Linked DNA regions of Homo sapiens: all the other regions are linked to region 2. Evidence: fine-mapped expression QTL. A gene starts in region 2. Each other region holds a variant in brackets. All regions are shown on one strand. Distances are from middle to middle.

Region 1 (7,855 bases), 200 kb after region 2:
AGGGCTTGTTTTGGGTAGGTGGGAGGCAGCAGTTCCCTTTTCTGGGCAGAGGCATTTGTGGAAAAGCATAAATTATTTGCCTGGAAATGTGGAGTTGCCCTTTCAGCAGCGTGACCCTGGACAGGCCAGTTTTTGAGCCTCAGCTTCCTCATCTGCACAATGGGTATATGAACCAGGAGTCCCTCAGTCTTCAGGCTCTGGTAGACCGTGGCTCTATGAGGAGCATCTCTTAGTCCTACTGCAAATGGCCTGTGTGACGTTAGGAACACTTATTCTTTTTTCTTGAGACGGAGTTTCACTCTTGTTGCCCAGGCTGGAGTGCAATGGTGCAATCTCAACTCACTGCAACCTCTGCCTCCCGGGTTCAAACGATTCTCCTGCCTCAGCCTCCTGAGTAGCTGGGATTACAGGCGCACGCCACCATGCCCGGCTAAGTTTTGTATTTTTAGTAGAGACGGGGTTTTGTCATGTTGGCCAGGCTGGTCTCGAACTCCTGACCTCAGGTGATCCGCCCACCTCGGCCTCCCAAAGTGCTGGGATTACAGGTGCGAGCCACCGCTCCCGGCCTGGGAACACTTCTTACCTTCTCTGTCCAGTAGAGCTGGAGACCTCAGCCTGCTTTAGGTCTTGTTATCAAGAGATCCTAATAAGGGTCAGTTCTGAGCTGGCAGTAAGGACTGCTCTAGGGACACGGGTACTTAGAGCTCCGTGGTGGTCCTACAACTCCAGGATGTCCATGTCTTCTCCAGTTTGATACCACAGGGCAGTGGTTCCCCTAAAGGACTGAAGAGCTCGAGACTGCCCCACAGAACTTCAGCCTTAGCTCCAGGTAGGACCAAGATGCAGGGTCATGGGTCTGAAATTAGCCGACATCACCCAGCCAGGGCGCAGGGTGTCCGGAGAGCCTCTGGGCCTGGGTGGACTTGAAATGTCCCTGGATCACCCCAGAGGACCTGGCTGGTGTGGATGAAGTGCTGGACAGCTGCTGAGTGTTGCTTTTCCCTCCTGGACTCTCATCTTGGATGACTGGAAAACAAGGTCCCTTCCACGCCAAACGAGCTCATTGGGCCAGGCACACATGCATGGGTATGAGGGAAATCACGTTTCCGGGTTCCAGGCCTCACTGACTGCACAGCCTCTGGGCCGGGTGCTTCCTCTGGGAGGAGGCCCAGATGCTGGCCCTTCAGTGACTGCTCTCAAGGCTGAAGGACGCCCCAGAGGTACGCCTTGCGAGGCCGTGTGCTGAATCTCAGACCTCAAATGGAGCCTTCTTTGCCTGACAGTCTACAGCCTGAACTTAGCCTGAGTCAGCACAGGCTTCTAGAACCTTCCTGCAGAGTCTTGTGCAGACAGCCCAGGCTCAGCATTTTCCCATCCTCGCTTCCTCCCTCTTGGAGGTGGTGGTGGTGAACTCGACCTGAGGAGCTGAGAAAGGGGCAGGAGAAAAAAAATCACGAAGAGTCGGAGGCAAAAGGGCCTGTGGTTTGGAGTGGTGGGAGGAGGAGGTGGGAGGGCTGATGGCCACGTGTGCCCTTTACTGGGGAGGACGAGCCCTTAGATTCTCCAGCCCGGCTCTCTCGAGAGCCCTTAGCAGAGCGGCCTTGGTTGTGATCATCAGGGAAAGACTTGAAGCGAGGAAGTAACTGTGCTTTTCCAAATGACTTCAGATGCCCTTTTCCATAAAGATGGGTTTTCTTCATGAAAACTAGTTGACTAGCTTTTAATAGTCTTTTTTATGATTATTAAGTTATATTCAATGTTAAAAATTTAGAAAATGCATTTATGACTGGAAGAATGTTCTTAAAGCTTCTTAATTTTTATTTTCCCAAAGGGCCTCCTTGACTTCTGAAAAGACCCAATATTTACCAGGGACTGTCTGCGTGGGGGCTTGTTTTCCAGTTGAAATTATTTCTAAAGGGGTGAAAAAGGCTTATCCCCTCTACCGTGGGTCTCCAGGTGACTATGGAAGACAGGAACAAGACTCTCCACAGGCCGGACGGTTAGACAATCCAGATAGTTAGAGCAAAGTGGCTGGGTTGTGGGCATGAGGGGGGGAGGGGTTAGTCAGAGAAACTTCTGGATGCTCCAGGACTCAGAACCAAATACCTGCATTTATACAAAGGTTTCCTGCAGCCTCTGCACGTGCCACAGACAGTGCCCCTGAATATACGTTGTCAGCCCCAGACTCCTGTGAAGAAGGGCAGGGGTCTGGGACACTCACTGCCCTGCCTCGTAGAGGCCTCAGGTCTGAGCCCTAAGTTCCTAATGTGCCAGCATCACCCGATCACCCTGTCCCCTGGCCTCGGCCGGTGCCACCCAAATTCAGAAATAAGATTGAAATCCAAGCGCACCTCCTTGGAACCCTAGCCCGTGGAATCCGAGGCAGTCAGATCAAAGGGACCTCAGAGATCAGAAGCCCTGCCTGCGACAAACTGAGGACCTCTGTTCCCTTTCTGCAAAAATGCAGGCAGTAATGTCCCTGGGCTGCCAGGGAGAGGGAGCCGAGGTGGAGAGTGTGAGAGGGCTTCGTGACCCACGCTGTGCTGTTGCGTTGGGGGGATTGGCGGTACTGCCTGTTTAGGCCATTTTGCCATGGGATAGAAGTTCCTCGCACGAGCTCCAATACTGTCCACACCCCGTACCATTCCTTCTACCCCGAGGCTGATGCGATTCCTCTACGAGAACCAGCAGACACAGAAGCCAGAGAAACCCACCATTCCCTTAGGTGACTGCTCTGTCTTTCTGGGTTCATTTGGGGATAGTAGGGACGCCTTGAACAAGGGCCCCCTGAACATCGCTTTGGGTGGGGACAGTCATTGTTCCTTTTCAGGCTGTGTTTCTGCTGCAGCACACACACGGGGCAGCTTGCACGCCCAATTTCCTGTCCCTCCTTTCCTTCTCAGGCTGATGCCCAGACCAGTCCTTTCTGACCATCATCAAATACCTCTTCATCCTGATTGAGTGGTGGTGCTGAGCATTGTCCCCAAAGAGCCACTTGTGCTGTGGCCTTCTCCTGGAGGCATATTCTGTCCTCTTCTCTCTGCCTGCGGCCCCCATCTCCTGAGCCCAGCGAGCTCAGTGCTAGTTCACTGTTTGCTCCTCCTTGCTGCAGACACAGAAGATTTGGGAGCGTTCCTGCCGAGGTTGGTAAGGATACCTGGAACAGTGGGCGGCCTCTTTGCTCCCCACTTGCTAGGAGTAAAGCCGTTTAAAAAGACACCTGAGCCTCTCCGGGTTCCTGCTCCTCACTCAACCCCACAGTAGATCTGGTGGGGAGGTTGAGGGCTCAGTGAATCTGCAGGTGCAGCATCGTGTCCTCAGTGTCCTGCCCCCTGCTTCCACCCGGTGTCGACAGCTGCACGGTCCACCCCACGCCTGCCTTTCCATCGTTCCTCATCAGCCCTGTGATCTTTCCTGTGGCCCTGCTGTGCTGGTGCCCTGTGAGGTCCTGTGGACACAAGAGACTGCACGGGCCACACCCCCAGCTGGGTGAGTCCTCTCCCTCCTGGGTACTCTGGACAGTAAAGAAAGATGGACACGTGGGCTCCGTGGAGCATGAGGTAGTCCAGGACCTCGGCGGCCACAGGTCCTGCCTCCCTGCTTCTCGTGCCCTCCCTCCCTTTGGGTCTCTGCTCCACCTCGGTAAACGCTTCGTTCCCACCCCTCGAAGGGTAAATCGAGCTCCTTGGTGGTAAAGCACCCACTGCCCCTAGTCAGAGGGTCCCTCCTCTCTGATGTCATGGTGCCCTGGTCTGCCTGGTAGAATTTTAGCTGCTTTATAACCTGGTCCTGAAATGAACCACTGGGAAGAAATAGGGTAAAATGAACACACAGCTGCCACACTGCATCCCAACCCTGTGTGACCCTATCACCGCAGACTTTTGTGGCAAGATGACAGCATCTCAGTTTGCTTGAGAAGCTTATTTTTGCCAAGGCTGTTACCACCAGGCAGGCACCAGAGCTCGGTTCCACTCACAGCAGAACACAAGCAGTGGCCCTGTGGATTCCCCTGTAAGAATGTCCGGAGGGAATGCTTCCCCCTCGCCAGGATCAGACTCTTGGCACTCTCTGTGATACGTGAGACCTTGAGGAAGGTTCCTCCGTTCCCAGAAGCGGAGCAATGTGCTGGTGCTG[A/C]GAAGTGGCCCCTCAGGGCCACCCTGGGCAGGGTCTCCGGTTTTATTCCCCCGTACCTTCTGCTTCATCACGCAGATCCTATCCTGGGTTTGGGTGGGGAAGTCTCTCTGCGGGGGCCGGTGGGGCAGCATCTCCAGGCTGGGAGGCAGAGCTGGTTCTGCCACGATGTGTCCTCCCCGTGAGGACCCACTCCCACGCCTGTCCCTGCCACAGTGGGCCTCCTGATGGTCCTCCTTCCTCCAGGTCACCGGCACGATTGCTGTGGCCCCTCCTCTGTGGGTGTGGGCTTGGACGCCTCTCCCCTCCACCTGCACACCCCTTGCAGCACACATGAGGCTTAGCTATTAAAGAGGCTGGAGGACAGTGCAGCGCTTTAACCCTGGCCCTCACAGGGAGGTGTCTAGGTCTTTCTTCTCCCCTCCAGATGGAAGCATTTGGGTAGAGGACCTAGAAGAGGCTAACACTCCCTGAACTATGAACCTAGATTGGTTTCTAAATCTGCTGAGAGAAAAATTGAACTTGAAGTGACATTCCTTCTAAAGTAGACATCATCCTACATGGCTCTTCTACAGCTGTCTTTCACCCTAACCCATGGTGTGCCCTGGGCTGTCGCAGGCCCCCAGCCCCTGCCCAGCCTTTCTGAAGTGCCAGGCTTGGGGCTCAATGAATGAGCCTTGTTCTAAAGCAGAAAACAGTTCTGTTCCAGTCAGGGTTCAGCTGCCTGCGTCTTGATGAGATCTCTGTTCAGGATTGTGTCCCCTGCTTCTCTCTCCCTTCTCCTTTTCAAGATCACAGGTGAAGACAAGGGGGTGGAAAGTTCTACCTAGATTGCTGCTATCTTAAGAATGTGGACTTTGGAGCCAGATTGTCTGGGTTTAGTCCCTGCGTCTGCTGCTTACTAGGTGTGTGACTTTGGGCAAATACCTTGACCTCTCTGTGCGTCCGTTTTCTTGGCTGTGAAATGATGTATCATCTCAGAGCACCCATCCCCTGGGGTTGTGTGGGGAGTAAGTAAGCCGGTCTAGTATGGCGCCTGGTACATCCTCAGTCAATAATATCAATGTTGGCTGTGGTGAGGACGTAGCAGAGGATGGTAGAAAGAATCTGAGGCTTGGGGTCCAGAGCCCTGGGTTCAGGTCCCAGCTCTGCCACTTGCTGGTGTAGTGATGCGGATTCTGCACCCCGGAATGTGGCAGTGTTTGCATGCAGGCTGGCTGTGAAGACCCAGGGCAGCAGGCCGGCAGGCTGGTTCCCCTGCACACCGGACTAACTCTGTCCTCTCTCTCCACAGGCACACATTCTGGCAGTTCCGCCATGAGAACCCCCAGACCCGGGTTGGGGGCCCGCCCCCCGAGGGGCTGCCGGGCTTCAACAGCGGGGTGATGTTGCTGAACCTGGAGGCCATGCGCCAGTCCCCGCTCTACAGCCGCCTGCTGGAGCCGGCGCAGGTGCAGCAGCTGGCCGACAAGTACCACTTCCGCGGCCACCTCGGGGACCAGGACTTCTTCACCATGATCGGCATGGAGCACCCCAAGCTCTTCCATGTGCTGGACTGTACCTGGAACCGGCAGCTGTGCACCTGGTGGAGGGACCATGGCTACAGTGACGTCTTCGAGGCCTATTTCAGGTGTGAGGGCCACGTCAAGATCTACCACGGGAACTGCAACACTCCCATCCCGGAGGACTAGGCGCTCCCCGTGCCTTGCCCCCGGGGCCTCCAGATCTGGGGGAAGGACAGGGTTCCTTGGGACAGACCCAAGGGCAGTGTCTGACCCGCTAGAGAGACACCGCAGGGAAGTCCTGTGATTAAGGTGCTGAGACCTCCTGCCGGGCAGGTCACTGTGCTGAGGCCACCCGCCAAGGACTGGCCTGTGCACTGCTGGTGCTTGGGACCTTATTCCTCCAGGGAGCAGGCGACACAAAGGACACGCATGTCCAGTGGGCTGGGAAGCAAGCACTTGAAGAGAAGGAAGGGGAGAAAGGGTCCCCCTTGCTGTCTGCCTCTGAGGAATGGAAATCCTTTAGACCCGGCCTTTTTTGGACCAATATAAATTTAATTTAAATTGACAGCCTTCCATTTTTCGAGAAAGTACAAACAGAACTGCTTTAGCACCCATCGAGCCCCAAACGGGTAAGGTAAGCCAAGGTTTTAATGACCAGCCCAGTATCTAAGCTTCCAAACGAATGCCAGCCCATCACATACTCACCCTGGGAGGCTGCTGCACGCGCATTCTCCTGATGCTCACGTCACTTGGTGTAGGTTTCAGGATCGCCTCTTTGAGGAAGGACTTCAGGACCAACTGGGGCCTGCATAAGAAAACTTATCTCATTATTAGAGTACTCACAGCTTGTATCTCCCAGCTACATCCTAGAACCCCATTGTCCTTTATTCCACCAAACCAGCTCCAGGTGACCAGACTCTACTCAGAAAGCAAATTCGTCATCAAAGAACAGAGACTGGCCACCACAAGGACATGCAGGAGAACTGTCGGGACCAGGAAGACTCATTCCAAAAAGCCCAGGCCGGGCACAGTCGTCAAGCCTGTAATCCCAACACTTTGGGAGACCGAGGTGGGGGTATCGATTGAGCCTCGGAGGTCGAGATCAGCCTGGGAAACACAGGGAGGCCCCCATCGCTACAAAATATTTTAAAAATTAGCCAGGTGTGGTGGCTTGTGCTTGTTGTCCCGGCTACTTGGGAGGCTGAAGTGGGAGGGTGGCTTGAGTCCAGGAGTTCACTGCACTGAGCTGTGATCACACCACTGCACTCCAGCCTGGACGACAGAGTGAGACGTCCATCTCAAAAAAAAAAAAAAAACCAAAAAGGAACCCAGCAATTCCCAAGTGTGACCATGTGGGCTTGGAAGACATGTCACTCATGGGCTAGTAAGCATTCTAGTTTCTTTGTTTAAAAAATCCCCTTATCATACCACGTTAGACCGTAGACCTTAGCAGAAATTAAAGCGTCATTTCTTTTGATGGGGCCTCCTGTACGTAGGCTGCAGACGTGAAAGCCCCAGGGGTCCATTTGTATCAATTTTCATCTTGTTTTGTTTTGATTTCATTTACGTTTTTCTTTTTCCCATGAGTGAGGATAGCCAATAAATCATCTTTGAGAACATGGTGATTCATGTTGTTTGTTCTCTGATCACAGTTTCAGCTGCATGAAGGCTCTGAATCAAGTGTGTACTCAATGCCATTGGAATCCCCACCTCCCCTGATGAAGATGAGTGCTTACAGGAGATCCTAAGGACCAAGGAGAGGGCACATCTGAGAGGGTGTCAGAGAGGGTAGTATTGGCATGTTTGGTTCAAAGCAAGGAATCATTTCATTCTAGGTATTGGCAGGTCCACCTGCACTGGGGAGCAAAAGCATCCCCATTTCTTCTCATCCCTCTTACCCTAGACTGCCCAGTTACATCCTGCCCTGAAGAGGTGGAGCAGATATCTTTCCCAGCCCTCTGCTGTGACAGAATTGGTCTGTTCTCTCACCTACTTGATTTCCTATTTATAGGTAACAATTCTTGAATGCCTGCTGTGCACCAGCCATTGTATTGGGGGATTTATTACGCTATTGATAATGTTTATGAAAACTTCATGAAGGTCATTATGTCTAAAGTCGACTGTAAGAAAATGTGAGAGATGTGGACAGAGTCATATACTATATGTTTATCACATTTTTTATAGTAGAAGAAAATTGGAAGCAACTTAAAATGTGAAAA
Region 2 (7,855 bases):
CTTATTTTTCTTCAACCTCCCCACCCTCCATTTTTTGGATATTAAACAGGGAAAGCTTGCTACATTATAAAGATTGTTGGCACCATTTATTTTACACAAAGGCTAAAGGTTAACTTTTGGAAATGATGAGCTACTTTTATATATGTGTTTACTCATGCTTTGTGATATTTCTGGATCATTCCAGTCATAAAGACTTATTACATGTACTATTTCTTGCTACCTGTGAAAAGGTATATTTTAAAGAATGTATAACCAACAGTCCATTTACTTTTTATTAGTATGTAGAGGATTTGTATCTAATTCATGAATGTAGTTTTACAGTAGTTTGTCATTGTAAATGGAGCAAAGTACATTATCTTCTAAAATGTACATTATGTAAGAATTGTAAATATACTTAAGTAATTTGTATGCCAAAAAATTACAATAAGTCAATAAAGATCTCACCTCTGGCTTAGTTCTTTCATGGTGATTTACATTTTCTTGTGAAATACACTGTGAACATATCTGTCAACAGCAGTTATTTTTAAGGTACTATTATTTTTAAGGTATTTCTTCCCAGCCCTTTCAAATCCACATTCATCCTATTTGCTGATTACTTCAATCAAGAAATCCATTTGGATCTTTTAAGTATATAATTCTCTTTGTTCACAGAGCTGTTATAGCCCCTAATTCATTGGCAAAAAGATAAAAGGTTTTTTTTGGGGGGTGGGGGGAGGGGCTTGCTCTAAGTTTTTTCCATTATGATTGACATTAATGTTCCTAATCTATGCAGCACATTCCCATTTTATCCTTTTAGTAAACAGACACACACACGTTTGTCAGTGAATTGGGACTGAAGGAATGGAAGGTTGAAAAAACCAAACTGGAAGTGTATCACCTGCATTTGCTTTAAAAAAAAAAAAGCTAATTGAAAGCAGACACATAAACTTTTCAATATAACTTGCTTTATTCAGCTTCATTTCATTTTCAGAATAGTTCTGTGGAGAACCCACATCAATAGTCTATAAATATTTTAAGTGAAAACAGTTTAATTTTTCAATTATTGCAAACACAAAGCTTTTTGCTTGTGGAGAAATGTTAAGAAGAAGCAAGAGAATCATCCACAATTCCATTATCTTGTGCTGTCCAAAATGGAACTCACTAGCTACATGTGGCTACTTAATTGGAATTAGACAAAGAGTTCATTTCCTCAGTCGTACTGCTACATTTTAAGAACTTTATAGCCCCATGTGGCTAGTGACTATTGTTTTGAACAGGGGAGATTGTAGAATATATACATTGTCACAGGAAGTTCTACTGGATAGCACTGAGGGAGATACTGTTACTTTTTTGTGTATACCCTTCTAGACCTTTGGGTGTGTGTATTCATACATTTATATAATGGGATCATACAGTTACCCACTTCTTTCACTTAATAGATGGGGAGAACTTTATGGGAAATTTCAAGCATGTACAGGTAGAGAAAATCAATAGCTATAAGCTCATGGCTTATATTTGTTCTCCTACCCATTTTTCCCCTTTCCTGGACTTTTTGGAACCAGATCCTAGACCTTTCACCAGCAAATCATTCCGTATGTACATCTAAAAGTTGAGGACTTTAAAAAATCGTAACACTTCTTAAACTGTAAAACTACATAATCAATATTCAAATTGGTTTCTCAAATACGATTTTTAAAATAGATCGTGCAAATCAGAATTCACATAAGTTCCATACGTTGCAGTTGGTGAATATGTTTCTTAGTCTCTGTAGGTTTTTTTTTCCATTTGTTACCATTACTATTTTTTTTTTGGAATTGGGGTCTCGCACTGTCATCCAGGCTGGAGTCCTGTGGCGATCGTAGCTCACTGCAGCCTTGGACCCCTGAGCTCAAGTGATCCTCCCACCTCAGTCTCCCACATAGCTTGGAGTACGGGTATGAGCCACCTCACCCATTTGTTAGTTTTTTAAATTTCCACCTGCAGTTTGTTGAAAACATCACTTTTAATGACTGCATTATTTTAGCTTTAACCACTTTATTGATGACCATTTGATTCTGATTTTTTGCCATCATGAACCTAGCTTTGCTTTATTTTTATGTTTGTTTTTTGAGACAGGGTCTCGCTCTCTTTCGCCAGGCTAGAGTACAGAGGCACAATCTCGGCTCACTGCATCCTCTGCCTCCTAGGTTCAAGCGATTCTCTTGCCTCAGCCTCTCGAGTAGCTGGAATTGCAGGTGTCCGCCACCACACTGCCTACTTTTTTTTTTTTTTTGAGACAGGGTTTTGCTCTTGTCGCCCAGGCTGGAGTGCAGTGTTATGATCTCGGCTCACTGCATCCTCTGCCTCCTAGGTTCAAGCGATTCTCTTGCCTCAGCCTCTCGAGTAGCTGGAATTGCAGGTGTCCGCCACCACACTGCCTACTTTTTTTTTTTTTTTGAGACAGAGTTTTGCTCTTGTCGCCCAGGCTGGAGTGCAGTGTTATGATCTCGGCTCACTGCAACCTCCACCTCCCAGGTTCAAGCGATTCTTCTGCCTCAGCCTCCTGAGTAGCTGGGATTACAGGCGCCCGCCACCATGTCTGGCTAATTTTTTGTATTTTTAGTAGAGACGGGGTTTCGCCATGTTGGGCAGGCTGGTCTCGAACTCCTGGCCTAAGGTGATCTGCCCTCCTCGGCCTCCCAAAGTGCTAGGATTACAGGCGTGAGCCACCATTCCCGGCCTAAGCCACCATGCTTGGCCTTGCTTTATTCTTATGGTTAAATATTTTGAACATTCTTAAATTATTAGGAAGATTTTCTAGAAATAAAAATGCTGTTTCAATGGTTGAGTATATTTTTGAGACTCATCCAATGTGGTAGGCACCGTGTTAGGTACTGGGTATATTGTGGTTAATAAAAAACAAATGTATATTCTGTTCTCTTGGAGTCACGTGTTCTTGCAATGAAGAAAGATGAGACTAGGGTAGTACATATATTTAGGTGGCCCTCACAGAATTATTGAGGATGGCACTTAGCCCAGACACTGGATAGGAGGTATTTAGAGATCATTTGTGTAGGTAGTGACATGTAAGCCAAGGTCTGAAGCAGAGAGGTTGGATAATCCATGCAACCTTACAATGTGGAAATAACAGGAAAAACCGTTTACCTAATCTCTGGTCAGAAATCAGAGAACTTGGCCAAAGAACTGAAGGGTTACTGTACTTACTCAAGTTCTTTGTCTATTTAGACAGCATGCACAGCACTTGCACGTGTTTACTTAAAAACTACTGGTATAGCCTCAATTCTTAGAAGACTGAAGTTAGTACGTTTTTATCTAGTTAGCAGTGTGCAACTGCCTAGGGTCAAAATTGCTACTGGCTAGCTGTGTGACTTTGGGCACGTGACCTCGGCGTGCAAAACTCCCTGGTACCCTCAAGGAGGCTCTTGATAAAGTGTTAAAAGTCTGTTTATAAAACAAAAGTGGATGAATGTCGCCCTCCAGGGCTTTGCGGTGCTGGGGCTCGGGGAGCAGCCTCGCAGGTTCGTGCGGGCGGCGGGGGCCCCCTGCTGGCCACATCCTCCAGCCTCCCTCCGCTCGGCCTCCGGCGCGACGTGCGGCCCGGGCCATTTCCTCCCAGGGCGGGGGAAAAGGGAGGAGCTGCCGGTTTAAATTGCCTAGCTGCAGCTCGTGTGCAGGGAGAGGCCGAGACGGCTTAAAGCCTCCAAGAAATTGAGGGAAAAAAGGTGCAGAGATTAAAGTTTTACCTCTTGGTGCCTCCAGCTTCGCTTTTGGCTAACCTAAGTTCCTCTGTTCGGGCGCCTCCATTCCCTTCAACACTCAGCTTGGATATCCTCTGGGGCTCGCCGCGTAGGGCGCCATTTCTCAGCCGGGACAGCGGGCCAGCCCTCAGCACGCTGGAGTCCGGAATCCCCCCCTCCCAACGCCGGGCGCCGGATCCCACCCTAACCCCTCCTCTAATACCCTTGGAACCTAGGACCCAGCGGTTTCGGCACGCCCGGCCCCGCCCCTCCGCGCACCGGCGCCCGCGATTGGCTCCAGGCGGCGCGGCCCCGCCCCTTTCATGGCCGCCGCCTGGCGCCGGGGCTAAGTGGCCGCCGGCGTCCGGGTACCCGAGGGCTCTCCCGCGTTGCTGGCACCGCTGGCGCCGCGGTCTCGTAGCGCATGGGCCTCCTCCGAGGCGGGCTCCCATGCGCTCGGGCCATGGCGCGCCTGGGCGCTGTGCGCTCCCACTACTGCGCCCTGCTGCTGGCCGCGGCGCTGGCCGTCTGCGCCTTCTACTACCTCGGCTCAGGCCGGGAGACCTTCTCCAGCGCCACCAAGAGGCTGAAGGAGGCCCGCGCCGGGGCTCCCGCCGCGCCCTCGCCGCCCGCGCTGGAGCTAGCGCGGGGCTCCGTGGCGCCAGCCCCCGGCGCGAAGGCCAAGAGCTTGGAGGGCGGCGGTGCCGGGCCGGTGGACTACCACCTGCTGATGATGTTCACCAAGGCGGAGCACAATGCCGCGCTGCAGGCCAAGGCCCGCGTCGCGCTGCGCTCACTGCTGCGCCTCGCCAAGTTCGAGGCGCACGAGGTGCTTAACCTTCACTTCGTGAGCGAGGAGGCCAGCCGCGAGGTGGCCAAGGGCCTGCTGCGGGAGCTCCTGCCGCCCGCCGCTGGCTTCAAGTGCAAGGTGAGCGGGCCGCGGCTGGGGGCTCCCGGTGGGTGGCCCACCCCATCCTAGGCGAGGTCAGTTTGCGCTCCCGGAGGGGATCCGGGGAACTAGCGGGTAGGATCTTCCCTGAGCTGCCCGCTTGCAATGTAGTGTTCACAACCTGCGGGAGGGCTCGTTCGGGGGCGTGTCCGGGAGCCAGACGCCCTCAGCTGGTGCTGAGGAGTGGAGCTGCGTTTTTAATGACCGCCTCGTTTTCCTCTCCCCCAGTTAAGCGCAGCCCCCAGGAGAGTCCGCGCGCCCCCATTTTGCTAACGTTGCAGGGTTCAGCACTGCCTTCAGAGTCTGCACCTCTGTTTATGTTCCTCAGTTTTTGACTTCTGAGGATGGGACTGGTCACCAGTAGTCATCCTGAGCAACTGGAGAGGGCCTTGGTGAGGCCTCTGGAAGTGTTGAAGTTGCAGTGACACTTCTCATTGCTCTTAAGGTATTTCAGTAGGATCTGGTCAAACTCATTGTGAACCATCTTATCTCCTCTCTGTGTCCCTTTTTCCCCTTCCTCCAAGGGTCATGAACCCATTTAGAGAAGCCTGGAGTTCCTCCGAATGAGGAAGAGAAAGCTCAAGAGGAACAGATATGATCTGGGGAGAGCACAGCTGGCCGCCTTGTCCCAGGCTGGACCAGTCTGCCTCCATGACAGCTTCCATCTCTGTTTATCATCTGTCTTCACTGCCTGGCTCTCCTTGTCTGAGATGTGTTTCTGACATAGTGTGAATTGCCTAGGTCAAATTGCTTATTTGATTTTGACCTAATAGTTGTACAGAGGGGATCCGAGGCCAGATTTTAAGGAGTAGTAGGTAATATTAAAGGGTGGAGACTGATGTTGGTTGGGGAAGCATGCTGAGACAGGAGTTGTATTATGTGAGTGACTAGGGGAGCTGTTGCCAGGATCCTACAGGCTTCGGGAGTCTCTGATAGCTCCTTGTTGCCTACGGGGTGAAGTCCCAGTTTATTGGTAGGGCTGTTGTGTTGTGAGCCTGGTCCACTTCTCTGGCTTCACCTCTCCTCCTTTGTCTACATGCACCTCATACCTTAGCTATGTAGGGAGTGGGCCTTATACATGCTGTACTGTCTGCCCACAGTGTCCTCTTGGGCCCTTGGCCATTCTTTACTCAGCTTTCACCTCTCCTGAGAAAGTCCCTAGACCCTGGGACCTCTGAAGGTCCTCGCTGGAGGAGGAGCCTGGCAACCTGTCCCAGGTGATCCTAATGACCCTAATATTTGAGAAACTTTGCACTAGTTCACGGTAGAAAACTGAGGGCCCTTGGCCATAGGGTCAGTCTGGGCAGATCTTGGGATTTGACCAGGTCTCCAAACACCGCCTTGAAGATAGCATTGTCATCTCTTCTGGGCCTACTCTGCACCGTTGCCGGATCTCTGTCCCCTTGTCCCCAGCTCCCGCTGCAGCGCTAGCTGCACAGCCAGTGCTTTCCAGCCTACTTGCCTTTGCTTTTGTCATTCCCACTGTTGGGGTGCTCCTTCTCTCCATCTCCAAGTCTTGCCCATCTTCAGATACCATCCCCTCCTTGGAGCCAAGGAAGCGTCCCTTCTTTCCTTTTCTACTTCCCTGGTGCTGTGACTGTATCATGTCTTATCATCCATCCCTATGTACAATGCCTGGCACTCTTAGTTGGCACCAGAAATATTGGCCCAGGGGTAGATCCAGCCTCAGGGCCGAGCCCCTCCTGTCTTGGAGTAAGTGTTTCATGCTCGGACTACCCCACTTTACTGGGCCCAGTTCTGGCAGCCTCACTCAAGGCCTGGAGGCAGCTGCAAATGACCAGAGGGAACTGATACCTCCTCTGTTGAGGGGTGAGGGTTTAGTGTCTGGGGACTTCTAGCCAGATGTCAGTGATTGGATAAGGGGTTATCAGTCCTGGCATAAAATTGCTCCCGTTACTTCTTTTTTTTTTTTGTGAGATGGAGTTTCGCTCTTGTTGCCTAGGCTGGAGTGCAGTGGCACGATCTCAGCTCACTGCAACCTCTGCCTCCTGGGTTCGAGCGATTCTGCCTCAGCCTCTCGAGTAGCTGGAATTACAGGTGCCCACCACCACGCTGGCTAAATTTTTTGTTTTTTTTTTTTTGAGACAGAGTTTTGCTCTTGTCGCCCAGGCTGGAGTGCAACAGTGTGATCTCGGCTCACTGCAACCTCTGCCTCCAAGGTTCAAGTGATTCTCCTGGCCCAGCCTCCTGAGTAGCTGGGATTACAGGCGCCCGCCACCACGCCCGGCTAATTTTTTGTATTTTTAGTAGAGATGGGGTTTCATCATGTTGGCCAGGCTGGTCTCAAATTCCTGACCTCAGGTGATCCACCCACCTTGGCCTCTCAAAGTGCTGGAATTACAGGCGTGAACCACCGCGCCTGGCCTCCGTTACTTTGTTTTGTTTTGTTTTTGATAAGAATTCTTGCTATGTTGCCCAGGCTGGTCTTGAACTCCTGAGCTCAAGCAATTCTCTTGCCTTAGCCTCCTGCATAGCTGGGATTACAGGCACACACCACTGCACCTGGCATTCCCATGATTTTTGAGTTCATATTTTGTAAATTTTTCTGTTTGTGATGAAAAGTGCTCTTTTTTTCCTTTAAATGTGCGATTCTAAAAGGTTTGCTTCATTTTACTTGTGATTTAATTCTTCCTCAGGTTTGGAATATTCCTGAAAAGAACATATGTCACATGCCTTTCCTCTGTCTGGAGTTCTCCCTGCCTCCATCCTTGGTACTCAGCTTTCAGGTCTCGGCTTTGGTGTTCTTTCCTTGGTAAACCTTTCCTGAGCCCCCATTACACACTTTCAAACTCCAAGCACTGTTCCTTAGTAACATTTATCACAGTTGTATTTATATAATCGTTGGAGTAATTATTTGTCTTCCTTGCTAGACTCTAAACTCCTTAAGGGCACTGACATTGACGTGTCTTAAATGCTGCCTCCCTAGCACCTGACAGATGAGGGAATTTTATACTGGAATTGTTTTTTCAGTATTGACTCGGAAGAAGGAAACTAGAATTTCTCACTCTGGCTGTGCCAGAGCTGGAAGGGATTTGGAGTATATAGCATGACAGGTGAGGAAACTCGCCCAAGGCTTTCTGGAGAAGTTACTCAGTTGTGGCTGGACCTGCATCCTAGGTCAGTGCTGTTCCCTTTGTGCTGTATTTCCCCTTTAAGGAGCACTTCTGTC
Region 3 (7,855 bases), 80 kb before region 2:
AAGTATATAGCCTACATTATTGTGGCTGGGCACAGTGGCTCACACCTGTAATCCCAGCACTTTGGGAGGCTGAGGTCAGGAGTTCGAGATCAGGCTGTCCAACATGGCGAAACCCCGTCTCTGGTAAAAATACAAAAATCAACTGAGCATGGTGGCACATGCCTGTAGTCCCAGCTACTCAGAGGGCTAAGGCGCAAGAATTGCTCGAACCTGGGAAGTACAGGTAACAGTGAGCTGAGATCATGCCATTGCACTCCAGCCTGCGTGATGGAGTGAGACTCTTGTCTCCAAAACAAAGCCAGTAAATAGTCTAGATTACTGACATCTAATTTCATGAAATACTTGACATTCTATTCAAGTGTATAGAAAATTTAATTTTGGTAATGTTACATTTTAAAGGCAGTAGTATCCAGGATATATGTATGGGCCAAGAGTTCACGATGAAGTTGCTAAGAGCAACTGCAACAAAAGCAAAAATTGACAAATGGGATCTAATTAAAGAGTTTCTGCACAATCAAAGAAACTGTCAGCAGAGTAAACAGACAACCTATAGAACGGGAGAAAATATTTGCAAACTATTCATCTGATAATGCTCTTATATCCAGAATTTATAAGGAACTTAAATTATAAAGAAAAACACAACCCCATTAAAAAGCAGGCAAAGGACATGAACAGACATTTCTCAAAAGAAGACATACATGTGGCTAACACTCATATAAAAAAAGCTCAACATCACTGATCATTGGAGAAGTGCAAATCAAAACCACAATGAGATATACCATCTCACATCAGCTGGGTGAGATACCATTGCTGGGTATATAACCATAGGAATATAGTTCTATTATAAAGACATATGTATGTGTATGTTCATTGCAGCACTATTCACAACAGCAAAGACGTGGAATCAACCTAAATGCCCATCAGTGGTAGACTGGATAAAGAAAATGCATACGTACATATACACTATGGAATACTATGCAGCCATAAAAAAGAATGAGATCATGTCCTTTGCAGGAACATGGATGGAGCTGGAGGCCATTATCCTTAGCAGACTAACACAGGAACAGAAAACCAAATACCACATGTTCTCATTTATAAGTGGGGGAGCTAAATGATGAGAACACATGGACACATACAGGGGAACCACACATACTGTGGCTTATTGGAGTGGGAGGGTAGGAGGAGGGAGAGGATCAGAAAAAATAACTAATGGATAGTAGGTGTAATACCTGGGTGATGAAATAATCTGTATAACAAATCCCTGTGACACCCGTTTACCTATGTAACAAACCTCCACATCCTGCACATGCACCCCTGAACCTAAAAGTTAAAAAAAAGTTGAAAAGCAGAAAAGAGAAAAATGTTCTGCTTTTCTCTTTGGAATATAATGATGTTTTTTTAACAACTTTATTAAGGAATAATTGACATAAACTGCATAGTTACAGCATACAATTTGATAACTTTTGAGATCCACACATCTCCATGAAATCGCTACAAATAATTTAGTGAATATAACAATCATGCTTTAAAAGTTTTTCTTTGCCACTTTGTAATTTCTGTTTCTCTCCCTTCTTCCCTCATTCCTAGTCTGTCGTGAATCTGCTATCATTATTGGTTTGTTTGCATTTTCTAGAATTGTATGTAAATGGACTTTTGTAGTCTAGTTTCTTCAGTGTTATTTTGAGGTCCAATTATATTGCATGTTTCAGTCCTTCATTCCCTTTTTATTGCTCAATACGATTGCATTGTATGGATTTATCACAAGTTTTAAAATCCATCTACCTGTGGATGGTTATATTAGCTATCTACTGCTGTATAACAGATTATTTGAAAACTTAGTGGCATGAAACAACATGCATGTATTATCTTACAGTTTCTGGGCCAGGAATTTGGGAGTGGCTTAGTTGGGTGACTCTGACTCAGGAATTTCATGAGATTGCCTCAGTCTCTGGTCCTCTGACCAAGGATCCTCTTTGCAGGGATGCTTGAGTGTCCTTATGACATGAAATCTGGTTACTGCTAAAACAAGTGATCCAAGAGCAGCATGGGCAAACAGGAAGCTCCAATGCCTTTTTTTTTTTTTTTTTTAAAGACAGAGTCTCACTCTGTCATCCAGGCTGGAGTGAATGGCATGACCTTGGCTCATTGCAACTTCCGCCTCCCAGGTTGAAGCGATTCTTGTGCCTCAGCCTCCTGAGTAGCTAGGATTACAGATGTGCGCCACCACACCCAGCTAATTTTGGTATTTTTAGTAGAGTTGGGGTTTCACCATGTTGGCCAGGCTGGTCTGGAACTCCTGACCTCAAGTGATCTGCCCGCCTCAGCCTCCCAAAGTGCTGAGACACTGCATCTGGCTGGAAGCTTCAATGCCTTTTATAACCTGGTCTCAGCAGTCACACATTGTTACTTTCTTCATGATACTGTTTGCTAGAAGTAAGTCACTCCATCTAGCCCACACTCAAAGAGCAAAGAATTGGGGCTGCTTTTGAAGAAAGCAGTGTTAAAGAATTTGTTGTCATATTTTAAAGCTACCGCAATGGACTTTGGGGTTGTTTTTAGGTTTTGGCTATTACAAATAAAAATGCTTATTAAAATACATGTAAAAATCTGTGTAGGCATATAGTTTTATTTCTTTATGTGAATAGCCAGGTGTAAAACGGCTAGTTTGTAAGATAGTGTTATGCTTAAATGTTTACTATTTTTAAAGTGAAGACTGTAAGCCATTGCTAAGAGAAAATAAGGAAATATTTAATTTCTTTTATTTATTGTTTATATTAATTTTTAATACAGTCACGCATCATTTAACAACAGTGAAACATTCTGAGAAATGTGTTGTTAGGTGATTTCTTCATTGTGTGAGTATCATAGAATGTACTTATCACAAACCTAGGCAGTGTAGCCTCCTACACACCTAGGCTACGTGGTGTAGTCTATTGCTTTTACGCTGCAAACCTATACAGCATGTTTCTGTAATGAATACGTTAGGCATTTGTAACATAATGGTAGATATTTGTGTATTTAAACATAGAAAAAGTACAGTACAGATACAGTACTATAATTTTATGGGACCACCGTTATATGTGCGGCCTGTCTTTGACCAAAATGTCATTATGCGGCACATGACTGTTTTACATTTCTTTAAAGTGTTAATATCTGTAAAGAAATTAAAACCTACACAAATGTTGTTTTGCAAAGTGGATTGTGCTATTTTACATCAGCAGTGTACAAGAGTGCAGGGGTTCCACATGCTCAGCAACACTTGGCATAGTCACTTTCTAAAATTGTTTATGGTTTTAATTTGCATTTCCTTATTAATAAGTAATGATGTTGAGCATTTTGTTTCTTTGCCATCTATGGATCTTCTTTGGTGAAGTGTCATCTTTTGTTCATTAAAAAAATGGATTTAGGCCGGGCATGGTGGCTCACGCCTGTAATCCCAGCACTTTGGGAGGCCGATGCGGGCGGATCACGGATCAGGAGATCCAGACCATCCTGCCTAACACAGTGAAACCCT[T/G]TGTCTACTAAAAATACAAAAAATTAGCTGGGCGTGGTGGTGGGGGGCGCCTGTGGTCCCAACTGCTGGGGAGGCTGAAGCAGGAGAATGGCGTGATCCCGGGAGGTGGAGCTTGCAGTGAGCTGACATCACGCCACTGCACTCCAGGGTGACAGAGCAAGACTCCGTCACACACACACACACACACACACACACACACACACACACACACACGAAAAAGAAAAAATATGGATTTATTGGCCTGGCGTGGTGACTCACGCCTGTAATCCCAGCCCTTTGGAAGGCTGAGGCGGGCGGATCACTTGAGGTCAGGAGTTCATGACCATCCTGGGCAACATGGCGAAACTCTGTCTCTACTAAAAGTACAAAAATTAACTGGCGTGGTGGCATGCCCCTGTAATCCCAGCTGCTTGGGAGGCTGAGGCAGGAGAATCACTTGAACCTGGGAGGCGGAGGTTGCAGTGAGCCGAGATCACACCACTGCACTCCAGCCTGGGCGACAGAGCAAGACCCTGTCCCCCGCCCAAAAAAAAAAAAGGATTTATCTTCATATTTACTGAGTTGTTATATGTTTTGCAGATATTTTCTTCCATGCTTTGGCTTGCCTTTTTCATTTTTGTAGCAGTGTTTTTTAAAGATCAAACTTTTTTTTTATGAAGTCAGTTTATTGATTTTGTTCTTTTGTAGTTTTCTTTTGTGTTCTGTTAGGAAATGTTTGCTTAACCCTATTCAGTAAGATTTTTTTCAATGTTTTCTTGTGGAAGTTTAGGTCTATGATCTATTTCAAGTTAAATTTTATAAATGTTCTGTGGTAACGGTTGAAGTTCTTTTTCCTCTCTATTATTATTAAATTCTTTGCATGTGGCTCTCCAGCTTGCTCTGTACATTTTCCCATCTTTATTGGCACCTTTTGTAAAAAAAATAAATGAATAAAAGCTGACCATATGCGTGGGTAATTTCTGCTTTATTGATCTTTTTGCTTGTCTTTTTTCTTTTTTTTTTTTTCCTGAGACAGTCTTGCTTTGTTTTCTGGGCTAGAGTGCAGTGAAATGAAAATGACTCACTGCAGCCTCCACCTCCTGGGCTCAAGTAATCCTCCTGCCTTAGCCTCCTGAGTAGCTGGGACCACAGGCACATGCTACACCCCTGGCTAATTTTTTGAATTTTTGTCGAGATTGGGGGGTCTCACTTTGTTGCCAAGGCTGGTCTCCAACTCCTGGGCTCAAGTGATCCTCTCAAACTGTTGGGATTACAGACGTGAGCCACTGTACCCAGACTTTACCTGTCTTTATACAGTACCATACTTCATTGATTACTGTAGCTTTCATAGTAAGTCTTGAAATCAGGTAGTATGAGTATTCTAACTCTTTTCCTCTTTTTCAAAGTTATTTTGGCTATTCTAGGTCCTTTATGTTTTCATATAACTTTTAGAATCAACTTTTCAGTTTCTACTGAGATTTGGAGTGGAATTGCGTTGAATGTATAGATCAATTTGAGGTGAATCAACATTTTGCTAATAATAAGTCTTCTAATCTGAATAGTATATGTGTTACTCAAAGTAGAGGGCCATGATTCTGTCTATTTGTGTGTGTATGATTTGCTCACTTTATTTGACAATCAGTGGTTAGTTCTTGTCCACACTGACTTTCGACAGATTTTTGAAAGTGGTGACAGACACATAGGTAATCAATGTATAGAGCTTGTTTGGTGAATGTTCAGCCTCATCATGTTTTCTGGAAAACCACATATGGGATCCTATGAGATATTGCTTGTTCCTTTGTTCCAGACAGCTTTGTTTTGCCTGGTGTCAATGCGCACATCTAGAATTCCCATCTCCTTCATGGCAAATTTCTGGATCTCTTTGAGTGCCTGAGGGCCATGCTTCTTGAAGCCCACTCCATGGATGTGCTTCTGAATGTTGCTGGTGTACCCTCGGGTCACCTTATCGATGGCAGGATGTTTCTTCTTGCCGCCCATCTTTGTGGAGCCGTTCTGCTGGACCCAAATTAGAAAAGAAGAGCATGAAAGATTGTCTCCATTTGTTTTTTTTTTTAATTTCTCTGAGCATGTTTTGTAGTCATCACTGTGCAAGTCTTGCATATTTTTTGTCAAATTCATCCTTAAGCATTTCCTATTTGTTATTATAAATGGCTTTTTTTGTTTGTTTGTTTTCAGATGGAGTTTCGCTCCTGTTGCTCAGGCTGGAGGGGCAATGGCGTGATCTCGGTTCACTGCAAGCTCTGCCTCCCGGGTTCAAGCGATTCTCCTGCCTCAGCCTCCCAAGTAGCTGGGATTACAGGGATGTGCCACCACGCCCGGCTGATTTTGTATTTTTAGTAGAGACGGGGTTTCTCCCTGTTGGTCAGGCTGGTCTCAAACTCCCGACCTCAGGTGATCTGCCCGCTTTGGCCTCCCAAAGTGCTGGGATTACAGGCGTGAGCCACAGCGCCTGGCCAGTATTTTTTTTTTAATGTTCAGTTTCTATTTGTTCATTGCTGGTCTTAGAAATACAACTGATTTTTGTATTTTGACTTTGTTTCTACAGCCTTCTTAAACTCACTTATTAATTTTAGCAGTTTTTTTTTTGCAGGTTCCATAGTGTTATCTATAGAGCTGATCACATCATCTGTGGATAAAGACAATTTTATATTCTTCCTTTCTAATCTGTATGCTTTTTATTTCTTGTATGATTGCATTGCTAGAATTTCTAGTGTAATGTTGAATAGAAGTGATGAGTAGGCATTCCTGGCCTTGGTCCTGATCTGAGGGTGAAAGTAGCCTTTTGCCACTAGCCAGGATGTTAGATACAGATTTTTCATATGTCCCCTTTATTACGCCAAGGAAGGTACCTTATATGTCTATATTCCTGAGAGTTTTTAAAAATCAGGAAGGGAAGATTTTTGTTGCAGTGCTTTTTTGTGTCTGTCATACAGTTTGTTTTTTAAGTCTGTTAACATGGTGAATTATGTTGATTTTTTTGAATGTTAAATCCATCTTTCATTCCTGGAATATATCCCAGTCGGTCATGATGTATTTTCCTTCCTATGTATTCTTATGTCATTACTATATATTGCTAAGAATTTTGGCATCTGTATTCATGAGGGATACTGCTTCGTAGCTTTCTTTTCTTACAGTGTCTTTGGTTTTGTTCTTCCGTTTTCTCAGAGAATAGATTTTCCGATAGATTTTTTTTTTGAAGAGTTTGTGTAGAAGTACTGTTCTTTCTACCTTTCAATGTTTGGTAGAATTCAGCAATGAAGATGTGAAGACATCTTTGTGGAGTTTTTCACATTTTTTCTTTTTATTTATTTTTAATTTTTAATGTATTTTCTTTGTAGGATGTGTTTTCCTTTTTATTTTTTAAGGTATGTGTGCCATTTCTTTCTGATATTTTATAATTAGAAGTTGAAACAGCTTTACAGTTGACATCCATATACTCACCCCAAAGGTATATTATGCTGCATTTGCTTTATCACATATCTATTCATTTATCCTTCCCTCTATCCATGCCTCAATATTATTAATGCATTTAAAAATAATTTATAGACAAAAGAACATTTCTTTCTCAAATACATTCCCAGGTTTAGGTTTTTTTTTTTACAAGTTTTCTTTTTTCTTTTCTTTTCTTCTTTTCTTTCGAGATAGGATCTTACTCTGTTGCTCGGGCTAGAGTGCAGTGCAGTGGCGTGATCACAGCTCACTGCAACCTTGAACTCCTGGGCTCAAGTGATTCTCTTGCCTTAGTCTCTTGAATAGTTAGGACTACAAGTGTGTGCCACCATGCTTGGCTCATTTGAAAATGTATATATATAGAGAGATGGGTCTTGCCATGTTGCCCAGGCTAATCTTGAACTCCTGGCCTCATGGGATCCTCCAACCTTGGGCTCCCAAAGTAATGGGATTATAGGGATAAGCCACCATGCCTGGCCCTGATTTTATTTCTTGAGGTCAAGTTTAAATACAGTTAAATGCAAAAACCCTATTTGTATGTTTAAGTTAATTTTGGCAAGCCCATCCACTTATGTAAGTCAAATCCTTTTTAAGATATGGATCATTACCGTTATCCAGAAAGTTCTCCCATACCACTTCTCAGACAGTCCCAACCCACACCTCCAAAGGCAAGTCCTGTTCTGATTTTCTTCCATAAAGTAGTTATGCTTTTTCTATAACTTCATATAAATGGAATCATATTGCATGTATGTGTGTCTGTGTGTGTATGTGTGACTTCTTTTGCTTGGAATAACATTTTTGAGATCGGTATTGTTCCCTGTTTCAGTAGTTCTCTCTTTTTAATACTTTGTAGTGTAACTTAATATAATGTCATATTGTTGCTTGATGCCC
Region 4 (7,855 bases), 180 kb after region 2:
TTCTAGTTCTTTTAATTGTGATGTTAGGGTGTCAATTTTGGATCTTTCCTGCTTTCTCTTGTGGCATTTAGTGCTATAAATGTCCCTCTACACACTGCTTTGAATGCGTCCCAGAGATTCTGGTATGTTGTGTCTTTGTTCTTGTTGGTTTCAAAGAACATCTTTATTTCTGCCTTCATTTCGTTATGTACCCAGTAGTCATTCAGGAGCAGGTTGTTCAGTTTCCGTGTAGTTGAGTGGTTTTGAGTGAGATTCTTAATCCTGAGTTCTAGTTTGATTGCACTGTGGTCTGAGAGATAGTTTGTTATAATTTCTGTTCTTTTACATTTGCTGAGGAGAGCTTTACTTCCAAGTATGTGGTCAATTTTGGAGTAGGTGTGGTGTGGTGCTGAAAAAAATGTATATTCTGTTGATTTGGGGTGGAGAGTTCTGTAGATGTCTATTAGGTCCGCTTGGTGCAGAGCTGAGTTCAATTCCTGGGTATCCTTGTTGACTTTCTGTCTCCTTGATCTGTCTAATGTTGACAGTGGGGTGTTAAAGTCTCCCATTATTAATGTGTGGGAGTCTAAGTCTCTTTGTAGGTCACTCAGGACTTGCTTTATGAATCTTGGTGCTCCTGTATTGGGTGCATATATATTTAGGATAGTTAGCTCTTCTTGTTGAATTGATCCCTTTACCATTATGTAATGGCCTTCTTTGTCTCTTTTTATCTTTGTTGCTTTAAAGTCTGTTTCATCAGAGACTAGGATTGCAACCCCTGCCTTTTTTTGTTTTCCATTGGCTTGGTAGATCTTCCTCCATCCTTTTATTTTGAGCCTATGTGTGTCTCTGCATGTGAGATGGGTTTCCTGAATACAGCACACTGATGGGTCTTGACTCTTTATCCAATTTGCCAGTCTGTGTCTTTTAATTGGAGCATTTAGTCCATTTACATTTAAAGTTAATATTGTTATGTGTGAATTTGATCCTGTCATTATGATGCTAGCTGGTTATTGTGCTCGTTAGTTGATGCAGTTTCTTCCTAGTCTCGATGGTCTTTACATTTTGGCATGATTTTGCAGCGGCTGGTACCGGTTGTTCCCTTCCATGTTTAGCGCTTCCTTCAGGAGCTCTTTTAGGGCAGGCCTGGTGGTGACAAAATCTCTCAGCATTTGTTTGTCTGTAAAGTATTTTATTTCTCCTTCACTTATGAAGCTTAGTTTGGCTGGATATGAAATTCTGCGTTGAAAATCCTTTTCTTTAAGAATGTTGAATATTGGCCCCCACTCTCTTCTGGCTTGTAGGGTTTCTGCCGAGAGATCCACTGTTAGTCTGATGGGCTTCCCTTTGTGGGTAACCCGACCTTTCTCTCTGGCTGCCCTTAACATTTTTTCCTTCATTTCAACTTTGGTAAATCTGACAATTATGTGTCTTGGAGTTGCTCTTCTCGAGGAGTATCTTTGTGGCGTTCTCTGTATTTCCTGAATCTGAACGTTGGCCTGCCTTGCTAGATTGGGGAAGTTCTCCTGGATAATATCCTGCAGAGTGTTTTCCAACTTGGTTCCATTCTCCCCATCACTTTCAGGTACACCAATCAGACGTAGATTTGGTCTTTTCACATAGTCCCATATTTCCTGGAGGCTTTGCTCATTTCTTTTTATTGTTTTTTCTCTAAACTTCCCTTCTTGCTTCATTTCATTCATTTCATCTTCCATTGCTGATACCCTTTCTTCCAGTTGATTGCATCGGCTCCTGAGGCTTCTGCATTCTTCACGTAGTTCTCGAGCCTTGGTTTTCAGCTCCATCAGCTCCTTTAAGCACTTCTCTGTATTGGTTATTCTAGTTATATATTCTTCTAAATTTTTTTCAAAGTTTTCAACTTCTTTGCCTTTGGTTTGAATGTCCTCCCGTAGCTCAGAGTAATTTGATCGTCTGAAGCCTTCTTCTCTCAGCTCGTCAAAGTCATTCTCCATCCAGCTTTGTTCTGTTGCTGGTGAGGAACTGCGTTCCTTTGGAGGAGGAGAGGTGCTCTGCTTTTTAGAGTTTCCAGTTTTTCTGTTCTGTTTTTTCCCCATCTTTGTGGTTTTATCTACTTTTGGTCTTTGATGATGGTGATGTACAGATGGGTTTTTGGTGTGGATGTCCTTTCTGTTTGTTAGTTTTCCTTCTAACAGACAGGACCCTCAGCTGCAGGTCTGTTGGAGTACCCGGCCCTGTGAGGTGCCCCGCTGGGGGGTGCCTCCCAGTTAGGCTGCTCGGGGGTCAGGGGTCAGGGACCCACTTGAGGAGGCAGTCTGCCCGTTCTCAGATCTCCAGCTGCGTGCTGGGAGAACCACTGCTCTCTTCAAAGCTGTCAGACAGGGACCTTTAAGTCTGCAGAGGTTACTGCTGTCTTTTTGTTTGTCTGTGCCCTGCCCCCAGAGGTGGAGCCTACAGAGGCAGGCAGGCCTCCTTGAGCTGTGGTGGGCTCCACCCAGTTCGAGCTTCCCGGCTGCTTTGTTTACCTAATCAAGCCTGGGCAATGGCGGGCGCCCCTCCCCCAGCCTCGCTGCCACCTTGCAGTTTGATCTCAGACCGCTGTGCTGGCAATCAGCGAGACTCCGTGGGGTAGGACCCTCCGAGCCAGGTGCGGGATGTAATCTCGTGGTGCGCCGTTTTTTAAGCCCGTTGGAAAAGCGCAGTATTCAGGTGGGAGTGACCCGATTTTCCAGGTGCGTCTGTCACCCCTTTCTTTGACTCCCTTTGAAAGGGAACTCCCTGACCCCTTGCGCTTCCCAAGTGAGGCTTTGCCTCGCCCTGCTTCGGCTCGCGCACGGTGCGCGCACCCACTGACCTGCGCCCACTGTCTGGCACTCCCTAGTGAGATGAACCCGGTACCTCAGATGGAAATGCAGAAATCACCGTCTTCTGCGTCGCTCACGCTGGGAGCTGTACACCAGAGCTGTTCCTATTCGGCCATCTTGGCTCCTCCAGTAGCATCTAATTTTAATGCCCGCTTTGATCTGGCTGTTAAAAATTCCACTCTTTATGTTCATTCAAATTCCAGTTGGCTGTTCTGGGTAAGCCCAGGCCCCAGTGCCCTATCCGGAGAGAGCTGAGAAGTTGCAGGCCCTGCGTGCAGGGAGCCTGACTGCCTTGTCTCTGTGCTCTACCAGCTCCAGGCATACCTGTGTTGATACCTGAATAGAGCGCGCAGTGGGGAGAGACAGGGAGGGTAGCTCAGATGCTTTTCTGCTTTCACAGGGAGCACCCCAAGCACAGCAGATTTTCAAGAGATTTATCTGGAAGGCCTGGAGAAGCAACTCAAGCACAAGGGATCTGAGGAGGAGCCAGGGAGCACATTTCCAGTTTAAAGGGGAAAAATGTCTCCCTGGAGAGTGGGTACAAACGGGAAGAGGGCGGAAGAGGAGCTCCAGGGCCACACGCAGCCTGGCAAGGGCAAGGCCGGCTGTGTCCAGAGGAGCAGGAAAGGCGGGTTTGCTGCAGGCCACCTGGAGAGACGGTGGCGTGTCAACGGGCCACACGGGCAGTGCCTCCCAGCCCCCTTACTGCTCCCCGCAGCCTGCCCTGAGTTTAGAGAAGCTGCACCGAGGCAGGAGGAGGTGACCACAGTGCTGCCACCAAGGCGACCTGGAGC[T/C]GGGAAGGCCTAGGAGGCCACTCTCCCTCCTTGTGGTACAGGTGGGAGGTATCGGGGAGGGGCCTGGCCAGTGTCATCATGCAAGTCACTGATCATGATTAGAACAGCCACTGCCACTGACCCCATAGCCAGAATGCTCAAGACAGAAGCCAGGACCCGGAGCTCTTTGTCCCCCTTCATCACCTACATGCATCCGTTCTTAGAGCTAGTCATACACCTGCTAAGTATCTCCTAAACCCTTTGCTTGTCTCCATCCTTGGCACTGCCACCCTCCCCCCCATCACCAAAGCATCCTCCTGCCTGGTCTTGCTGCTTCCAGCCCTTCCTCCTCCATGCCAGTGCCCACCCAGCCAGAGTGACCTTCCTCATACCTCGCTTCAAACCTTTTGTTCCCTTTAGCAGCAAGGTCAGCTTCCCTGACCTTCCTCACAGGGCCCATCCTAAACTGGCCCTGGCTCATAGTCAGGCCTCTGACCCCACAGCCCCTGCCCCTAACCACTGTGTTTGTTGAATACAACTGGATAGACTTCTCCCCTACAGGTCTGTGGTCTCTGCTGAAATGCATTCACATGCATGGAGACAGGGAAACAGCCTCTGTTCCAGGGAAGCAGGGGTAGGGGAGCGGCCGAGACGCCAGACCTGGCTACCTTTGATAAGTTGTTTATTTTCTGAAGCAGACAGTTCTGATAAAGCCGTCGTAATGATGCTCCTTGATCCAACCTAGCACGATAGGAATCTGAGCTGGCCTGTCAGAAGGACAGATTGTTTTGTGGATTTTCTTCCCTTAAAAAAAAAGAAAAATTTAAAAGCAAGGACAGTGCTGTAGAGTGCTGAGCTGTAAGGCTTCGAGGCACACAGCGCGGCCAGCTGTGGGGCAGGCTGGGGGCAAGCTGGGTGTTTGGGGGTGCTGGAAACCAGGTCTGTTTTGCCCAGGTGTGCTCTGTGTGTACAAATGGCCTTTAATGCAGCTGCCCCTGTCCACAGGCCCCAGGCAGTCCTTGAAAGAGAAGCTTGAAAAGTCAAGTTTGGGTCTTCTGCAGCTCGGGCACCACCGAGTCATAGTGAGTGTTGGCCTCCGCAAGGCCTGACAGCACAGAGGACAGAGGTGAGTGGGGGCAGCTGCCTCAGGGGCTAGCCTCGGGGTGGGGGAGGAGGCTAGCCCAGCAAGCTTTTGAGGCACCTCTTTCCTGTGTTGGGTATGAGGTGAGTGCTCAGAGCAGTGGCTCTGTCACCACAGTCGAAGGACAGTGAGGCTAGTGGCGACCTGACGGTTTTGAACCAAACTCTGGGCCAGCCCCTGGTGGAATGGAGTGGTCTCGCCGCATCAGTCTGGAACTCTACTAGGATTGTCACCAGACACGGTTGTGGCTCGCGGCTGCCCACCGCGGCCCGCAGGATGACTGGGCTCTTGGAGCTGTGAGGGAGCACAGGAGCTAAGCTCCTGCTCCTTTCTCTCTGACCGCACTGCTGTGCTTCTCGAGTAGAACTGGGTGGACTCCCCCCTCCCACCGCGGTCTCTGGTGAAATGCGCTGGCATGCTTAGACATGGGGATGGAGGCTCCATTCTAGGGAACCAGGGATGGGAGAGTGGCAGAGATGCCAGACCTGGACACCTTGGGTGAGTTGCGTATTTTCTGAACCAGCTTGGAGCCGGAGCGGCAGGGCCAGGGGTGGGGACCAGGACTGTGACACTGGTACTGAGTCACCATTCCCAAGAGGTTTGGAGAGGTCGGAAGGGGTGTTGAGCCAAAGGGCAAATCCAGATATTCTCTCTCCAAAGCCCGTGCTCCTCTGAACTGTTCTCCAGGGACCTCACTCAGCCCCTTTTGTCCCCAACTTGAACTTTCATATGGCAATCATTTCTTTTCCTACTTGACCTCGTGCAAGGAGAGGATTTAGAGCACTGTAACTCCCATGGGGGTCATCCTTGCTTGGGAGAAGGTTACGTCCACGTGAAGACTCTGCGGCTGCTCAGATGAACCACACACTCTGGAGGTTTTTGGCATTTCGAGGGTCTGGAAGTGGCTGCCTTGCTAGGCCTCCCTTTCCTACCCTCAGCTTCTGCAACTGGCAGGAGCTGCTGTCTTGGGCACCATTAGAGAAGCTCCCCTGCCAAGAGCCAAGGTGTACTGTCCCCAGCATGGAGAATGGTCCTGCCATCAGAGTGGGCTCTCCAGGATGAGGGTGTCTGTGTGATTCACTGTGCTCTTCACATCCTGGACCCTGAAGCCTAATTGAATGAATGAATCCCTGGGGTTGGGTTTCTGGGGCCGATGGAGTCCTGTGATCGTGTGTAGTGGTGGGAGTTTTGCCTAGAACATCCTTGGGTGGTTTAACTCACTAAAATACAGCAAGTGAAGAACAGCAGGCTGCAAGGGCTGACCTAAGTATTTTAGGGAAAGAATTGGACCTCTGAAAAGAGTACGGTTTACTTTGCTCAAAATCTGGGTTGCATGAAATACATTACACTGAGGCTGCCATCTCGCTGGTGGGAAAGGCTGCAGGCAGTCTTGTGGTGCCCTAGCGAGGGTGGACTTTATGTCCTAGCTGGGCAGCCTTGCCCAGGTGGCTTCCATGCTCCATTTTCCTGGGTGATCTCTATAGGTTTTTTTCAGCGAGAAGATTTTGGGTCTAGGGCCAGGGCCCTGACTTGAATCGGGCCTCCTGCCTCTAAGTATCCCTGGGGCAGGGAGCAGCCTAGCTGATCCCTGCCATCTTCCCATCCTCACCCACAGCCTGCTCTGTGGTTGGAACTGGCCTGATGCAATTCAGACCTCATAGCCTGTTTTCTGCTTTTCTGCTTTTCTGCCTTACCAGCCGGACCTTCCCAGAGAACCAAAGCCCGCTAGGAATCCTTTCTGTGATGTTATTTCTCACTCCAGCTCTGAACTTGGTGAAAGCACAGGAGATGAGCTCTTTCTGAGTTAATGCAGCAAAAGGCAGAATGTGTGACCATCAGCACATCACTTTTTTTTTTTTGAGACCGATTTTCACTCACTGTCACCCAGGCTGGAGTGCCGTGGTGCAATCTCGGCTCGCTGCAACCTCTGCCTCCTGGGTTCAAACCATGCTCCTGCCTCAGCACCTTGAGGAGCTGGGACTACGGGTGCCTGCCACCGCGCCTGGATGATTTTTGTATTTTTAGTAGAGATGGAGTTTTGCTGTGTTGGCCGGGCTGGTCTCAAACTCCTGACTGCAAGTGATCTGCTTTCCTCGGCCTCCCAAAGTGCTGGGATTAGCGGCATGAGCCACTGTGCACCGCCAGGCGCAGTAACTCTCTGGGCCTCCATTTCCTCGTCCGTAAAATGGAAATAATACTGACCGTAGGTAGTTGTGAGGAATTGAGATAATGTACATATAGCTGGGTAATGATTCCTGTGAATGGGGAGAGGTGTTCTTCTCCTCCTCCTCGTCATTTTTCTGGGCATGGTGCTTGTCCATAATAGGCTTGAACAAATATTTATTGCCAGCCTGGATGTAGGGATGACCCTGACTTCTGAGGAGGAGATGAGGAGAAGGACCTCTGGTGTCAGGAAAGCCTGAGGAGAGGCCCCAGGGATCATCTCAGCAGGGAGGGTGTTGACCAAAGGAAAAAGTCAAGCTTTTAAAGAATTAAGTTCGTTTTATTCAGAAGTTTCCTGAGGACTCCAGCCTGGGAGGAGTCTTTCGAGAGGTTCTGTCAGGCTGCCCCAAGACTGTTTCAGCTCACAGTTTACACACAGGTAGACAGGCTCGGTATACGCAGGGGGTTATCAAGGCTTACGTGCAAGGGTGCATCTGGTTAGAGACTCCAGAAGCGACATCACTGACCCCTTCAGATGCGATCTTATGCGTAGGAAAAGGCAAGCACTAGGGTCATGGATCTTTTAAGGAATATAGTGACTCAGGAAGAGACGCTGGGGGCCGGGCGCTCTATCCTGTTTTGTCTTCACTTCATCCTCCGGAGGGTTGAGCGTTGTCACAGAGTCAGGGGCTTTGTGGAATTCGGCTGGCCAGCAGAAATGTGCAGACATGGCTTCTTAAGTTTGCAACTTTATCTCACGGGGTGAGCAGGGCTTCCTGGCTGGGGCCATGTCTGTGCCACATGTGACCTGGCACCTCACTGTTGGCTCTTGGCAGGGGGGGTGCCTTATGGCTGAGGGCAAGTTTGGGAGAGGTCCTTCTTTTTTTTTTTGAGATGGAGTTTCACTCTGTTACCCAGTGATCTCGGCTCACTGCAACCTCCTTCCCCCGGGGTTC

What was found.
Region 1: its variant is fine-mapped to the expression of XXYLT1 in whole blood (TOPMed, PIP above 0.99).
Region 3: its variant is fine-mapped to the expression of XXYLT1 in whole blood (TOPMed, PIP above 0.99).
Region 4: its variant is fine-mapped to the expression of XXYLT1 in whole blood (TOPMed, PIP above 0.99).

The regions. Positions count from the first base shown.
Region 1 is chr3:195,067,682-195,075,536 of GRCh38, reverse strand. XXYLT1 (xyloside xylosyltransferase 1) reads left to right here. Exons shown (of 4, transcript NM_152531.5): 4 at 5,426-7,253. The coding sequence ends at 5,822. Among named protein-coding and RNA genes, the nearest start is that of XXYLT1-AS1, 23 kb to the left of the region's middle. RefSeq lists enhancers at 1,933-2,433, 6,006-7,205. The variant A/C (reference allele first, on the strand shown) is at 4,135.
Region 2 is chr3:195,267,344-195,275,198 of GRCh38, reverse strand. It overlaps XXYLT1 (xyloside xylosyltransferase 1), which reads left to right and starts at 4,040. Exons shown (of 4, transcript NM_152531.5): 1 at 4,040-4,644. The coding sequence starts at 4,141. It overlaps ACAP2 (ArfGAP with coiled-coil, ankyrin repeat and PH domains 2), which reads left to right. Exons shown (of 23, transcript NM_012287.6): 23 at 1-454. RefSeq lists silencers at 3,410-3,639, 3,890-4,419, 4,580-4,759 and an enhancer at 4,010-4,801.
Region 3 is chr3:195,347,314-195,355,168 of GRCh38, reverse strand. The region is part of intron 4 of ACAP2 (ArfGAP with coiled-coil, ankyrin repeat and PH domains 2); the gene reads left to right. It also overlaps the pseudogene RPL31P22. Among named protein-coding and RNA genes, the nearest start is that of XXYLT1, 80 kb to the right of the region's middle. The variant T/G (reference allele first, on the strand shown) is at 3,515.
Region 4 is chr3:195,082,768-195,090,622 of GRCh38, reverse strand. The region is part of intron 3 of XXYLT1 (xyloside xylosyltransferase 1); the gene reads left to right. Among named protein-coding and RNA genes, the nearest start is that of XXYLT1-AS1, 7.9 kb to the left of the region's middle. The variant T/C (reference allele first, on the strand shown) is at 3,617.